Linked DNA regions of Homo sapiens: region 1 is linked to region 2. Evidence: fine-mapped expression QTL. Tissue or cell type: whole blood. Region 2 holds a variant in brackets; the other region holds the start of a gene. All regions are shown on one strand. Distances are between the middles of the regions.

Region 1 (8,183 bases), 29 kb after region 2:
AAGAGCTGCAAATGGATTTTCTCTCCTTTAATAAATGTACACTCTTCAGAAAATTTGTCATAAAATTCACTCTTGCAATTTGGCATTTGTGGATTCACATATACACAAATAAAGAAATAGATAACACAATCGATTTTCAACAAGGGTACCAAGACAATTCAATGGGGAAAAAAATAGTCTGTTCAACAAATGGTGCTGAGACAAGTGAATAGCCACATGGAAAAGAATCAAGTTGGATCCCTGCCTCACATCATATAGAAAAATTAATTTGGAATTAATCAAAGATCTAAAATGTAAGAGCCAAAATTATTAAACTCTTAGAAGAAAATGTAAGAGGTACGTCTTCATGACTTTGGATTAGGCAATAGTTTCCTAGTTATGACACATAGAGCACAAGCAACAAAAGAAAAAAATTGATAAACTGGATATCATTAAAATTTTAAAGTTTTGTGTTTCAAACAACAATATCAAGAATGTGAAAAGACAACCCACAGAATGGGATAAAATTTTTGCAAATTGTATTTCTGATAAGGTACTTATATCTAGACTATATAAAGAGCTACCACAACATAATAAAAGGACAAGTAACCAAGTAAAAATGGTCAAAAAATTCGAGCAGACATTCCTCCAAAGAAGAGGTATAGGCCAGGCACGGCGGCTCATGCCTGTAATCCCAGCACTTTGTGAGGCTGAGGTGGGCAGATCACCTGAGGTCGGGAGTTTGAGATCAGCCTGACCAACATGGAGAAACCCCGTCTCTACTAAAAATACAAAATTAGCTGGGCGCGGTGGCGCATGCCTGTAATCCCAGCTACTCGGGAGGCTGAGGCAGGAGAATCGCTTGAACCCGGGAGGCAGAGGTTGCGTTGAGCTGAGATCATGCCATTGCACTCCAGCCTGGGCAACAAGAGTGAAACTCCGTCTCAAAAAAAAAAAAAAAAAAAAAAAAAGGAGGAGGTCCAAATGGCTAATAAGCACATGAAGAGATGCTTGACATCATTAGCTATCAGGAAATATAAGCCAAAACCACAATGAGATACCACTTCATACCCTCTAAAATGGCTATAGTGAAAAAGATAATGAGTATTAGGGAAGATATGGAAAAATTAGAACCCACATATGATGCTGGTGAGAATATAAATGGTGCAGCCACTTTGGAAAACCGTTTGGCAGTTCCTCAAAAGGTTAAACGTAGAGTTACCATGTGATCCAGAAACCCACTCCTAGATCGCCAAGGAAACAAACTGTGTGTCCACAAAAAAACTTGTACACAAATGTTAATAATAGCATTAGCTACAAAACATAGCAAAACAGTGGAAACAATCTGACTGTTCATTAACAGATAAATGGATAAGCAAGATGTGGTATATCCATTCAATGTAATAATATTCAACCATGAAAAGGAACAAAATTCTGATACATGCTGCAACATGGATGAACCTTATAAACATTATGCTAAATGGAAGAAGCCAGTCATGAAAAACCATATATTGAATGATGCTGATAACATGAAATGTCCAGAATAGGCAAATTAAAAGGTTAGTGGTTGCCTAGGGCTGGGGTGGTTGGGAAGAAATGGAGGAATGACTGCTAATAGGTACAGGATTTTCCTGTTGGAGTGATAAAAATGTTCTAAAATTGATTGTGGTGGTGGTTGCACAAATCTGTGCCTATACTCATTGATTTTTTTTTTTTTTTTTGAGACAGGGTCTCACTCAGTCCCCCATGCTGGAGTGCAGTGGCCTGATCTTAACTCACTGCATCCTAGACCTCCCAGGCTCAAGCGATCCTCCCATCTCAGTCTCCTGAATAGCTGCGACTACAGACACATGCCACTATGCCTGGCCAATTTGTGTGTGTGTGCATATATGAAATATATTTGTATACATAAATTATAATATAAATATATATTTTTATAAATAAACTATATATATATAGAGAGAGAGAGACAGAGAGATGAGGTTTTGCCACGTTGCCCAGGCTGGTCTCAAACTCTTGGGCTCAAGAAATCCACTTGTCTTAGTCTCCCAAATTGCTGGGACTGCAGGCGTGCACCACCACGTGTAGCCCCGTTGAATTGTTTTTAGAGCTGATTTTCAGAGCTTTTGCACCGATGGGAAGTTATCTCTAAATAATGGTGGTTACTTGTTCATGACTCTGGACTTGAGCTAAAAAATTGATCACTGCAAGCATAGAAAGAATTGAAAGAGTTGTATTTGATAAATCTCATGACGGTGTCATAGCGTCTGTCATAAGTCCAAACTCATACCAAATAGTAACTGGGAATTGAATCTTGAGCTGTGAACTTTGAACTCGGACAAAACAATAAATTGAACTCAATATCTGATGCAAAAAAAAAGTGAATTTCTTCTCTGCTTGCAAGGGAGAGCGGTACTTGTAAGGTACAGCCTCTCTGAACAAAGCCAGAGCTGATCTTATAAAAGGTTTTGAAGGCCGGGCGCGGCTCACGCCTGTAATACCAGCACTTTGGGAGGCCAAGGCTGGCGATTCACTTGAGGCCAGGAGTTCAAGACCAGCCTGGCCAACATGGCGAAACTCTGTCTCTACTAAAAATACAAAAAATTAGCCAGGCTTGGTGGCACAGGCCTGTAATCCCAGCTACTTGGGAAGCTGAGGCACAAGAATCGCTTGAACCAGGAGGCAGAGGTTGCAGTGATCTGAGATCACGCCACTGCACTCCAGCCTGAGCAACAGAGTGCGACTCTGTCTCCAAAAAAAAAGGAGAAAAAGAAAAAAAAGGCCGGGCGCGATGGCTCAGGCCTGTAATCCCAGCACTTTGGGAGGCCAAGGCAGGCGGATCAACTGAGGTCAGGAGTTTGAGACCAGTCTGGCCAACATGGCAAAACCCGTCTCTACTAAAAATACAAAAATGAGCCAGGCGTGGTGGCGGGAGCCTGTAATCCCAGCTACTCGGTAGGCTGAGGTAGGAGAATCGCTTGAACCGGGAGGCAGAGGTTGCAGTGAGCCGAGATCGCGCCACTGCACTCCAGCCTGGGCGACAGAATGAGACTCAGTCTGGGAAAGAAAAAAAAATGGTTTTGGAAATATTCGCCTTCAGGGATTGGCTGTCTTTCCGAATCAGAAGTGGAGTGCGGCAGCTGAGTACCCACTGACTTTCGGAAGCCTGGTCGCTGGTGTCAGGCACTTGTTGATTGGCTATTGTCGGAGGCTTAGAGCGGTCACTGATTGGCTGACTTTCAGAAGCGTGGGGTTGTCATTGATTTACTAAGAAGCATAGTTACCGGAGTGAGGCTATCGCTGATTGGCTGATTTTCAGAGCTGCTGCACCGACGAGAAGTTATCTCTAAATAATGGTGGTTATTTGTTCACGACTCCGGACTTGAGCTAAAAAAGTATTTTCCTTTCTTGAATATGAAAGACGAGCACTTTAAATTCCTACTCCCTTCTGGTCTTCCCTCAGCCAAACCTGAAGGAGACACCATAGGGATTGTCCAAATCTTCATTAGTGTAGGAAGGATTTTCAGCCAGTGTTGTAATTTAAGTGATCTAGCACCAATTACTGTGGGAGAAAAATAGCTCTAATTATTGCAATTTAGTGTAAAAAGATGAATACAGGACATTTAAGGCATTCCGACGAGGTCAACGAAGGACGCAGGCCAATAATCATTAAATACGTCCTGTATATACAGGACTCCTGGCAACTATCAGTGCAGTATTTCCCAAGTTTCTTGTACATGTCCCTGCAGAAACCGGTAGAGCTAGGATCTTAACAGTAAAGGTTAGGGGTCTTCTGGGATCCTGTGCGCCTCTAACGCTCATGCCCTGCGCAGGGCTGGGTGCGCACTGCTGCGCTAACCCGAGGCCGGCTAGGAATCTATTGGATGTTTGAAGGGTGGGTGCGGAATTGATGACCAGGAAGCGGGAAGACACCGTTCCGGAGAACAGGGAAGCGAGCCGGGTACTGGGGAGGTGCGCTGGGTACTGGGGAGGTGCGCTGGATCCTGACGCCGGAGCGGAAGACTTCGCTGGAGGCCGGGGCTGGTCGGGCGGGGCGGGGCGGGCAGAGGCGGAGGGGCGGGGCCGGGCTGGGAGAGGCTCCGCCCCCGGGCGCGTCCGTGTGCGTGGCCGGGGGGCGCCGCGCAGAGCCCCGCTCTATGATGCCGGGCTTGAGGACGAGGCCGGGCGGCGCTGTGGCAACCCTCACCCTGCGGACACGCGCTCCCAACATCCGGTCCGGCGGCCTCGCAGCTTAAGAAGTGGGGTCCCTGTGGCCGTGCGCCGACCCCCAACTCCAGCCGCTCCCAACGCCCCCATCCGCTCTCGGTGCGCGCGCCCCCTCCACGCCCCCGCCCCCGCCCCCGCCGGGCCCGCGCGCCGCGCCCCCTCCCACCCGGCACGCCCTGCCGCCCCGCCCGGCCGCAGCTAGCGTGGAGCCGCCCTGCGGGCAACTGAGACCCTCGCAGCTGCACCGTCCTCCTCCGCCGCCAGTCGTCCGCCGCCATGGACGTGTACCCCCCGCGCCGGCAGGGGCTGCCCCGCGCTCGGTCCCCTGGCGGCTCCAGCCGCGGGTCACCCTCCGTCAGGTACGCGGGGCAGAGGCAGCCGAGGGGCGGCCGGGCGGGGGATGCGGGCTGTCGGGGTCCGGCGACGCCTCCCGCCGCAGGGCGTGGTCCGACATGGCTTCCTCGGGACGGTTCTTTGCTGAACGGCTCAGGGAGGAATTTTTCCCAGGAACGGCGCCCTCTGTAGAGGCCCCACAATGGCTCCCCTTTGGACAACCCCGCAACGGTTTCCCCACAATGGCTCCCCCACAGACAACCCTGCAACGGTTTCCCCACAATGGCTTCCCTAGGGACAGCGATTCCCTGTGAAGACACTGTTATGACGTCCTCACCCCCATAGAACGTTTCTCCCAGGAAGGATTCTTCTACACAGAACCCCACAGAGGCTTCCCTATGAATAACTCACTCGCCTTCCCCAGGGAATGTTTCCCTCAGAAACTGCTACTCTACAGACCTCACACCTCCACACACACAATAGCTCCCTCGTGTAGAACCCCCAAATGGATTACCTAGAAAGCCCCCTCCCGTGGGTCTCTAGAGCCTTTGCCCTTGACAACGGCTTCCTTAAAGAGTGTCCCCCGCCCCCTACGTACATAATGACAGCATCTCCCCTGTCGCGCGTTTCCCCAGCTCCCCCTGCCTCAGCCTGCATCGCGACGCCCCCTCACTCCACAATAGGGAGCTCGGGTTGGGAGGAAGTAGAGGTATTAGGGACGCAGGAGGAAAAACTGGATAAATAGGGGAAAGAGGCCTAGAACCTCCGAAAGCGGCGGACGCCAGGCCCCTTACCGTAGAGACACAGTCCCAAGCTACCTCAGTATGGGGAGGGGGTGATCGTGGGGAGCGTTCCCCGCCCCCTTTAGATATAGGAAGATCCGTTTCCGATTTCTGTGCCCTATGCGTTTGGTGCTGATCTTGTTGGTCTGGGCATTGTTTGTGATGGAGCTGGTGTGGGGCGCCGGCGCAGTGTGGAGGTTGGAATGATGGAGGGGTTGCAGCAGAGACCTTTGAGAAGGAGAGGGAGAGGGGGAATGCGAGCGATGAGCTTTGGTACTGCTAAACTGTCATTAAAACAGGAGAGGGTTTTGTTGTTGTTTGCTTTTTCTTATTCTAGCCACATAGCAAAGCAAATATATTGTTCCCTTGAAAGGAGGTTGCCAATCTACATGTTAAAACAGTTTTCTTATATTCTTGTTATGGTACTTAAGGCATATGTTTTAACTTTGCTTGCTGATCTGATTTTTGGGGTTGTTTGTTTGCTTTAACTAGACCAAATTATTGGAGAACAAGAAACTGATTCTTAGAAACCTGTTTCTTTTTTACTTCCCTGCATTCCTTTCCACAACCCAGAATCCAGTATATGTTTGTTGAACAAATAAAGGATAGAGAAGGTGGGGGGTAGATACCAATGAAACATTGCATTTAGGAGTCCTAAATTGCTTCGAATCTGTCAGGTGACATTTTTGAACTCCTGCTCTGCCCTTCAGTGTAATTCCTTGTGGGCTTTACAGTTCCAAGTTTAACTGCTTATAGTAACGCATCTCCAATCCTTTGCAACATTTCTGCCAGTTTCACTGTCTGAAGCAGAAAGTATTTGAACTTGTATAGACATTGCATAGGATACTTTAGAACAGCCATCCGTTAAATCTAGGCTCTGTGTGGACTTGAGGTTTATCCCAGATCATCTTGAGCTTAGGAATTTGGATTTGAGTCTGTTGAGATCTTTAGGGGGAAAAAAATCATCTCTACCTTAGAATCTGTCTCTTAAATGCTGCCTTTCTTGTTTTTAGTAGCATGGCCATGTGCTTTTTATTTATTCTTTTAAAGGTAGTGATTCTATGTTCAAAGAAGTATGCTGGCTCACTTTACTGATCATACCCGAACTCCAAATCTTCTATCAAGTGGTTTGAATAAAATTTGATTTCAGACAAGGAATAGTGCAAGGAACCCCAAGGCCTAGCTGCCCCCAATACCTTTGGTGAAAGAAATTTGCTGAAGGCTTCCCTCCTTTCCCCACTTCTACATGATTGAACGTGCTTTTCTTGCCCATTCAAGCCTTTCCCTTACTCTTGACATTGAATGTTACTAGCACTTTCCTGTCACCCATATATGGCTTTGCTGCTGACTGCTGAGTGATGGAAGGGGCAAACCTAACTGGTGAAGTGACATTCCTAAGACCCATAGATAGTACTCTGCAAGTGTATGGTTCTAGCACGGTAGTTCATTTTCACAGATGGAGAATGGAGATCAAGAATTAAAATATTGTTACTCAGAATGAGAGGCTTCTCTTTAAGCATGTGATAGTCATCAGTCTTACCAGGTATTTTTGGTTTCTGTCTCTTGAGCATGTAGTAGAATTTTACTTGCTTGCTTCTTTGAAGTTAGGTATGGCCTTAAGAGTTGCTTTTGGTCAGTGAAATGCGTGGGAATACTGTGTAGCCTTTCATGGTACAAATTTCTGTTGTGTAGTTTTCCATTCTCTTTCCTTCTGTCATGGTAGCTGTTGGGGCTGCAAATGGCAGCCACCCATCAGTCAAGGCCCCAGAGCTAGCTTCCAGGTGACCTATGCTTGACAGGTAGGTTGAGCAAGAAGTGAAACACCACCGGGATTTTGGACTTATTACCAAGGTATAAACTAACCTATCTGGATCAATGCTAAGGAACCAGTGGAAATCTAGCTGAAAGATACTTTCTACTTCAAAATGTTTTTCTGTAGAGCGATCTGTTCCTGCTTGAAACTTCTTTAATAGTTTAAATTTCACTGTTTATTTATATAAATTATGCAACAAGTACTCTGTTAGGTGCTGTAGAGTCAGATAAATACAGCAGTCCCCTGCCCTCAAATAACTCTTTTGTAAAGGGGAAGAGACAGTAACAGTAGAAATCATAATATAGAATAGTGAGTCATAAGTACTGAGGAAGAAATACGGCCGAAAGAACAATAATACAAGAAGGCCTAGTCGGTTTTTGCCTCAGCTATTGAAAGAATGGAGTTGCCATTTATTAGTATTAAGAACACTAGAAGAAGAAAAGGCAGTGTAGCAGTGTCTTCCAAGTTCTGAGAGAAAATGGTTTCCTACCTCTGAGGTGGGAGAATAATTGAGAACAGACATTGAAAGCCGAATGAGATTGTTGACAGTGTGATGAGAACTAGTAATCAGGCTGGGCACGGTGGCTCACGCCTGTAATCCCAGCACTTTGAGAGGCCAAGGTGGGTGGATCACCTGAGGTCAGGAGTTTGAGACCAGCCTGACCAACATGGTGAAACCCCACCTCTACTAAAAATACACACAAAAAAATTAGCTGGGCATGGTGGCAGGCACCTGTAGTCCCAGCTACTCGGGAGCCTGAGGCAGGAGAATCACCTGAACCTGGGAGGTGGAGGTTGCAGTGAGCCAAGATCTTGCCATTGCACTCCAGTGTGGGCAACAAGAGTGAAACTCCATCTCAAGAAAACAAAAGGACTAATAATAGACAATTAGATTCGATAATGTGGAGGGTCACTAGTGACCTTGACAAGAACAGTTTTGGTGCAGTGGGTTCAAGAGAAAATGAAGCCAGTCACCTGTAGGTCAGCTACTCGGAAGGCTGAGGTGGGAGGATCCCTTGAGTCCAGGAATTCAAGTCCAGTCTGGGCAA
Region 2 (8,183 bases):
GCCCGGCCAGCCGCCCCGTCCGGGAGGGAGGTGGGGGGTCAGCCCCCCGCGCGGCCAGCTGCTCAGTCCGGGAGGGAGGTGGGGGGGTCAGCCCCCCGCCCGGCCAGCCGCCCCGTCCGGGAGGTGAGGGGCGCCTCTGCCCAGCCGCCCCTACTGGGAAGTGAGGACCCCCTCTGCCCGGCCACCACCCCGTCTGGGAGGTGTACCCAACAGCTCATTGAGAACGGGCCATGATGACAATGGCGGTTTTGTGGAATAGAAAAGGGGGAAAGGTGGGGAAAAGATTGAGAAATCGGATGGTTGCCGTGTCTGTGTAGAAAGAAGTAGACATGGGAGACTTTTCATTTTGTTCTGTACTAGGAAAAATTCTTCTGCCTTGGGATCCTGTTGATCTATGACCTTACCCCCAACCCCGTGCTCTCTGAAACATGTGCTGTGTCCACTCAGGGTTAAATGGATTAAGGGCGGTGCAAGATGTGCTTTGTTAAACAGATGCTTGAAGGCAGCATGCTGGTTAAGAGTCATCACCATTCCCTAATCTCAAGTACCCAGGGACACACACACTCTGCCTAGGAAAACCAGAGACCTTTGTTCACTTGTTTATCTGCTGACCTTCCCTCCGCTATTGTCCTGTGACCCTGCCAAATCCCCCTCTGTGAGAAACACCCAAGAATGATCAATTAAAAAAAAAAAAAAAAAGAAACCATTATGATCCATCATGTGGACTCTGCAGTGGTATCTTAACTGGACTGTTTGCTTTCTTTTTGCCTTCCCAGAATCCCCTAGAATGAAAGCTCCGTGAGGGCAAGGGCTTTAACTGTCTTACTCATCTCTGTGTCCACAGTGCCCAGAACACTATCTGGTACAGAGTGGATACTCATTAAATATTTGTCATATGTATAAAGATTGAATGAATCACTTCTTTAGTTGGAATTTATAACATAAATCAGATTATGCTCTTTCTTGCTGTGACATAATAAAAAAATACGTATTTGGTAAAAAAAAAAAAAAAAAAAATTACAGAGAAGTTGCAAAGATAATATAGAGAATTCCTATATACCCCTCACCTAGTTTTCCCTAATGTTAACATATGAGATTACCATGGTATATTTGTGAAAATTAAAAAACCAATATTGGTATGTTACTATTCACTAAACTCCAGACCTCATTCAAATTTCATCAGTTTTTCTACTCATGCCCCTTTTCTGTTCCAAGATCCAATCCAGGACACCATATTGCATTTATTCATCCTGTCCCTTTAGTCTCCTCTGGTCTGTGATAGTTTCCCAGTCTTGTTTTGTTTTCATAGCCCTGACGGTTTTGAGGAGTACTATCCAGCATTTTGTAGAATGTTTCTCAGTTTGCATTTGTCTGGTATGTTTCTCAGGACTAGACTGGGCTTATGGGATTTCGAGAAGAATAGCACAAGTAATATACTCTTATTACTGATAATGTTAACCATGATCACTTGGTTAAGGTGGTATTTCCAGGTTTCTCCATCACACAGTTACCATTTTTCCCACTTCCATATTCTGTTATTTGGAAGTGAGCCACAAAGTCCAGCCTACCCTCAAAGGGGTTGGGGAGAAGAAGTAAACTTCTTTTTGCAAGGTGGAGAGCATAGCTACTTATGTTATTTGAAATTCTTCTATAAGGAAATTTGTCCCTTTTCTGTCATTTATTTTTCAATCATTTTCTCTCTGTAAATATGGCCTCATCTATACTTATTTACACTTTGGGTTACAATCCAATACCACATTATTTATTTTGGTTCCCAAATTGGTCTGGCTTTGGCCATTGGAAACTCCTCAGAGTTGGCTGTGGTATCCCTCTGACTTTTTTTTTTTCTTGAGTACTTCCTTGCCTTCTGGTCTATCAGGTGCTCTGGGCTCATCTTGCATTTTCCTTGCCTTGAAATAGCTTCAGTCATTTTTTCAAGAAGCCCTGGTTTTTTAAAATCAGAGAATGGTATTTAGAAACCATTCTTGGTTTAGAAACCAAGATCTGGGCACTGGATGTGCTTGTTTTATTGGGTGTCACTGCTCTTGGATCTCTTAGCAGAGGGTTAGAATAATATGTATGTGTATACTAATCCATTTAGACACACATTTATTTCTAAAGTTATTTCTGTATTTACTCATCTGTGGGTGTGTGTATATGCACACACACACACATAAATATGAATTCATACTAATTTCTGTGTGTGCGTATGTGTGTGTGTGTGTGTGTGTGTGTGTATGTATTTTGAGACAGAGTCACACTCTGTCGCCAGGCTGGAATGCAATGGCACAATCATAGCTCACTGCAGCCTCAAACTCCTGGGCTAAATCAGTCCTCCTGCCTAAACCTCCCAAGTAGCTAGGACTACAGGTACATGCCACAATGCCTAGCTAATGTTTTAAATTTTTTGTAGAGATGGGGTCTCTCTATGTTGCCTAGCCTGGTCTCAAACTCCTGGCCTCAAGGAATCCTCCCACCTAAGCCTCCCAAAGTGCTGAGATTACAGGCGTGAGCCACTGTGCCCAGCCTGTGTGGATATTTTTTAATTAATTCATTGTTCTAGGTTCCTGGTAAGACCTTTCAATGCAGAAACTTGTGACTTTGTGTTAGGGAAGCAGGAGCCTAGAAGAGCCAAATTAAAAGTTCAGCTCCATCTGGAGACTAACAGGGCACATTCCTTGCCAGTCACTACCCATGATTACAGATGTTTATAGTTGAGGAAAGACCATAAAGACACCTACGAGGACGCACTCCTCCGTCAGAGAGTTCAGATGTCCCAGTACCCATAAAAACACATGCTTTCAAGATAATAACAGTTATGGCAGGGTATGGTGGCTCACACCTGTAATCCCAGCACTTTGGGAGGCTGAGGAGGGCAGATCACTTGAGGTCAGGAGTTTGAGACCAACCTGGCCAACATGGTGAAACCTTGTCTCTACTAAAAATACAAAAATCAGCTTGGCATGGTGGCATGCACCTGTAATCCCAGGTACTCGGAAGGCTGAGGCGGGAGAATCGTTTGAATCTGGGAGGCAGAGGTTGCAGTGAGCCGAGATTGCACCACTGCACTCCAGCCTGGGCGACAGAGCAGGACTCCATCTCAAAGATAAAAAAAGAGAAGAAAGATAATAACAGTTATGCTCTGATGGACTCACACACTGAAATGTCAAAGAGGCCGGGCATGGTGGCTCAAGCCTGTAATCTCAGCACTTTGGGAGGCCGAGGCGGGCAGATCACGAGGTCAGATCGAAACCATCCTGGCTAACACGGTGAAACCCCATCTTTACTAAAAATACAAAAAATTAGCCGGACGTGGTGGCGGGCGCCTGTAGTCCCAGCTACTCGGGAGGCTGAGGCAGGAGAATGGCGTGAACCCGGGAGGCGGAGCTTGCAGTGAGCCGAGATTGCGCCAGTGCACTCCAGCCTGGGCGACAGAGCGAGACTCCGTCTCAAAAAAAAAAAAAGAAAAACTCTGTGTGTGTGTGTGTGTGTGTGTGTGTGTGTGTGTGTGTGTGTGTGTACCCTCGTGTGCTCGCACAAACGAACAGAGCTAGAGTTAAAGGAATTCCAAGGACAATTTGCTGGGTAAAATTCAAGACTGATTAATTTTCCACAGGGCAATAAAATCATTGTATTTAACCACACAACCAGGCTATAAAAACATAGAACCTATTAGTCTCTAAAGTTAAACTATACCAGGCTATAAAAACATAGAACCTATTAGTCTCTAAAGTTAAACTGTAACTTTATAGAACCATAAAACTGTCTGTTTCTTCAATCATTATGGATTGATTACATACATTGTGGCAATGGAATTTCATTCCCCTGGTGTGTCCCATGAGGGTAAATTCCCAGGATGCAGGTTCTGCTTTTATTGAAACAGGGTTTGAAAAAGTGTTCCCCTAAGATCTCAGGAATTAGGCAATCATAATTTTGCCATTTTCCCAAGTGTGGAATCATTTCCTCTTTAATACCTGTGTCAGGTGAGAATGTCTGAAATATGTGTTTTGTTTGGTTTTTTGAGACAGGGTCTCACTCTGTTGCCCAGGCTGGAGTGCAGCAGC[G/A]TGTTCATGGCTCACTGCAGCCTTGACCTCTCAGGCACAAGCTATCATCCCATCTCAGCCTCCTGAGTAGCTGGGACCACAGGTGTGTGCCACCACGCCTGGCTCATTTTTGTAATTTTTTTTTTTTTTTTGGTAGAGATGGGGTTTCACCATGTTGTCCAGGCTGGTCTCAAACTCCCAAGCTCAAGCAATCCACCTGCCTCAGCCTCCCAAAATACTGAGATTACAGGCCTGAGCCACCATGCCTGGCCTAGAACATCTGAAATATTTATTCTCGACATCACTAGCTCAATCTTGTTTCAATGTCTGTTCTTTTTGTCCTTGTGAGTTTTGTCCTTTTTATTTTTTAACTGTTATTTTAGTGAGGTTTGGAGAGGACGTAGGCCCAAATGCATGGACTCAATTCCCCACTTTTAAAAAATTTTTATTTTATATTATTTTTTGGTAGAGACAGGGTCTCACTATGTTGCCCAGGCTGGTCTTAAACTTCTGGCCTCAATCAATCCTTCTGCCTCAGCCTCCCAAATTGTTAGGATTACAGGTGTGAGCCAACAAGCCTGGCCCAGTTCTGCTTTTTTGATCCCACATTTCCTCCTGCTCTCTATTGTCCAGGACTTTCATCAAATGCCTGGCCTTTTGGCTTTTCAGTTTCCTGATGCTGCTGTAGATGTATTACTTTCCCTCTTTCATGTCTTTTCTACATTTCACCAGGAGTGTTCAGCAAGAGTGACAGTGTGCACTTGTGTGCTTTATACACTCCCTTGATCCAGGTCTTTTCCTGACTATATCAACACTTGGTTCCAAATAGCAAAGAGCTCTCCATCTTTGGGGATAGAAGCAAACTGTTCCTATTACTCAGAAAAACCATTGCTGTAATGTTGCAAGAATTAATAGGTATCTTGTCTGCTATAGTCTTCCCAAGGCAGGAAAAAAACCATAAGCATCTCCTTTCCAGCCCTGACCTCTCCATTTCTTCCTCACCCCCTTCCACCTCCAGAAGATGCATCTTCGTTTGCTGGCATTCTGGCCTTCTTTGCCTCAGAGGATGCCCTTGTCAAGTTCTAGCTGTATTGCCTGGTGGGTGTGAAACCACTCTTAACATAAACTCCTCAGCTGGTCCTTGGCAAGGGCTTTTCCTCAACTTTTCAGATTTAGTGGGTGTTTCAGATTTTAGTTTAGTGGTAGTTATATATGCAGAATCCCAGGCCCCACTGGAGGAGAGGGAGAAGGTGGCTTGCAATCTACATTTTTATGGAGGCCCTCATGTCAAAATCTGGGACAATCTCAGCCTCATATGAATAATGCAGGAATGGATTATTATATATTGAATCAAAAGGAATCCATGTGTCTCTATTGATATTAACACCAAAAATTTTGGCCTGTGCTCACACCTGTAATCGCAGCACTTTGGGAGGCCAAAGCAGGAGTATCAGTTGAGCCCAAGAGTTCGAGGTTACAGTGAGCTATGATCATGTCACTGTACTTCAACCTGGGTAACAGAGAGAGACTCTGTCTCAAAACAACAACCACCACAATAAATAAATAAAACAACCAACAATGGTATTTTATTTTATTATTATTTTTCTTAATAGAGACAAGATCCTGCTATGTTGCCCAGGCTGGTCTCGAACTTATGGGCTCAAGCAATCCTCCCACCTCAGCCTCCCAAAATGTTGGGATTACAGGCGTGAGCCACTGCACCTGGCCAACACCAAAAATTTTAAAGGGGGTAGAAAAGAGGGCCAGGTGAGGTGGCTCACACCCGTAATCCCAGCACTTTGGGAGGCTGAGGTGGGTGGATCACTTGAGGTCAGGAGTTCAAGACCAGCCTGGCCAACATGGCAAAAACCCATCTCTACTAAAAATACAAAAATTAGCCAGGCGTCCTGATGCCCATCTGTAATCACAGCCACTTGGGAGGCTGAGGCAGGAGAATTGCTTGAACTTGGAAGTCAGAGGTTGCAGTGAACCAAGATGGCATCACTGCACTCCAGACTGGGCAAGAAAGTGAGACTCCATCTCAAAAAAAAAAAAGAAAAGAAAGCTCTTCTTCATAAAAGAATGCCAAATTGTGAATGTAGATGGAATGATAGAAATGGAAAAATCATCATTTTATGACCAGTCTATTAATAATTGATTCAGGCAGGCATCATCAATGGAATGTAAAACTATTAGGATAAAGGGGGTTGGGAAAAATGATATTCATAAGGTTTGAATGTATCACCCTACAGGCTGTTTAGTAATCGCAAAAGGGAAAACGTATCTTTACCACAGAGAGAGCTGAAGGTCACCACGTTGACCATCAGATTACACTTAGCATCACCATCAACGTGAAAATTGACTGGTGTGTTGCACTGAGAAGACACAACATCACTTAATGTTTCTACCAATAATCTAAACCCAGATTTATTTTTAAGAAAATCAGGTTGGCCAGGTGCGGTGCCTTATGCCTGTAATCCCAGCTACCTGGGGAGGCAGGAGAACCGCTTGAACCCATGAGGCAGAGGTTGCAGTGAGCCGAGGTTGCGCCACTACACTCCAGTCTGGGCCACAGAGCGAGACTCCGTCTCAAAAAAAAAAAGAAAGAAAGAAAGAAAGAAAATCAGGCCGTTATGATGTCATCTTGATTTTAAATACAAAGGCTTAGTCAGTGCACATGATCAACACTTTGAACTTTCAGTTCCCTTCTACCACAGCCTCCTATATGTTCTAGAAGTGTCTAAGGGAGACTCTTGTGCAGTGCTCTCAGAATCTTCCATTCTCCCTCTGGAAATGTCACCTGCCAGGCCTCTGTTGTATGAAAAGAGTTAGCATGGCCTCTTATGTTTTTGCAAAGTGCTTCCAATGCCAAGGTTACTCTATGCTGAAATATGCCTTGAAGCCACTTTCTTACATTATGATCCCAAAGGGACCACTTTAGACTTCCAGCATCTCACCAAGATTTTTATGTGACCATCATCCAGTTTATGTCATTAGTCCTTAGGACTGAGAAGTGGGTCCAGGGTGGCTTACAGGGGAAAGTGGCTTAGTCAGTATTGTCTTGCTGGTCTTGCTCTCTGGGGCATGGGATTCTTATTCCAAGCACCCATCCAGTCACGTAGCTCACGCTGGAACTCTCATCAGCCCATTGATATCTTGGAGTTTAACACAAGGAAGTATTGCACAAGACAAGCCAGAGACCCATGGACATAATGGCTGCCAAAGCAGAGAAGGGGAGGTGACAGATTTAGGAGACAGCAGCCGCCCTCACCCTCACTGTCCTCTCTGTTCCTCCTCTTTCCTTGGAAAACAGGCCTTCCTGGGGACCTCCTGCTCCCCTCAGTTATCCAGACTCTACCTGTCTTTTGTTTATACTAATGATAGCATGCTAGGTACAGTGTTCTCCATCTTGCTTTTTTCATTTAATATTTTTTTTTTTGAGACAGGATCTTGTTCTGTCACCAGGGCTGGGGTGCAATGGCACCAACACAACCCACTGTAGCCTCGACCTCCCAGGCTCAAGCAATTCTCTTGCCTCAACCTCCTGAGCAGCTGGGATTATAGGTATGTGACACCATGCCCAGCTATTTTTTAAAAAATTTTTTGTAGAGACAGGGTCTTGTTATGTTGATGAGGCTGGTCTTGAACTCCTGGGCTCAAGCAATCCATGTGCCTTGGCCTCCCAAAGTACTGGGATTACAGGTGTGAGCCACTACACTCAGCTCAACATTTTTTATATGTACAATTTGTTCATATCCTTTATCTTTGTCTTTTATATCTTTAAGAGAACTCTTTACCACCTTTTTAGTGAGGTTTCTGGAGAGGGTGGAAATGAGTATTTTCTATCCACCACAAGGTTTCCTTGGAGTTTACAAGTATATGTTGATATCCCCTGAAAATCTAGATAATTTTGTCTCCTCTTTTCCAATTCCATACTTCAAATCTTTAAAGATTTAAAGACTAGGTGTAGTGGCTCACACCTGTAATTCCAACTCTGTGAGAGGATCACTTGAGCCCAGGAGGTCAAGGTTGCAATGAGCCGTGATCATGCCACTGCATTCCAGCCTGGGTGACAGAACAAGACCTTGTCTCAAAAAGCAAGCAAGCAGGCAAACAAACAAACAAAACACGCTTATTATG

What was found. PIP is the estimated chance that this variant, and not a neighbour inherited with it, causes the effect.
Region 1: it holds the start of DNAAF9, and the variant in region 2 is fine-mapped to the expression of DNAAF9 in whole blood (TOPMed, PIP above 0.99).

The regions. Positions count from the first base shown.
Region 1 is chr20:3,403,857-3,412,039 of GRCh38, reverse strand. DNAAF9 (dynein axonemal assembly factor 9) reads left to right here and starts at 4,371. Exons shown (of 37, transcript NM_001009984.3): 1 at 4,371-4,565. The coding sequence starts at 4,483. RefSeq lists enhancers at 2,970-3,471, 3,848-4,047 and silencers at 4,038-4,287, 4,328-4,567, 4,628-4,707.
Region 2 is chr20:3,432,970-3,441,152 of GRCh38, reverse strand. No RefSeq gene overlaps it. Among named protein-coding and RNA genes, the nearest start is that of DNAAF9, 29 kb to the right of the region's middle. The variant G/A (reference allele first, on the strand shown) is at 4,065.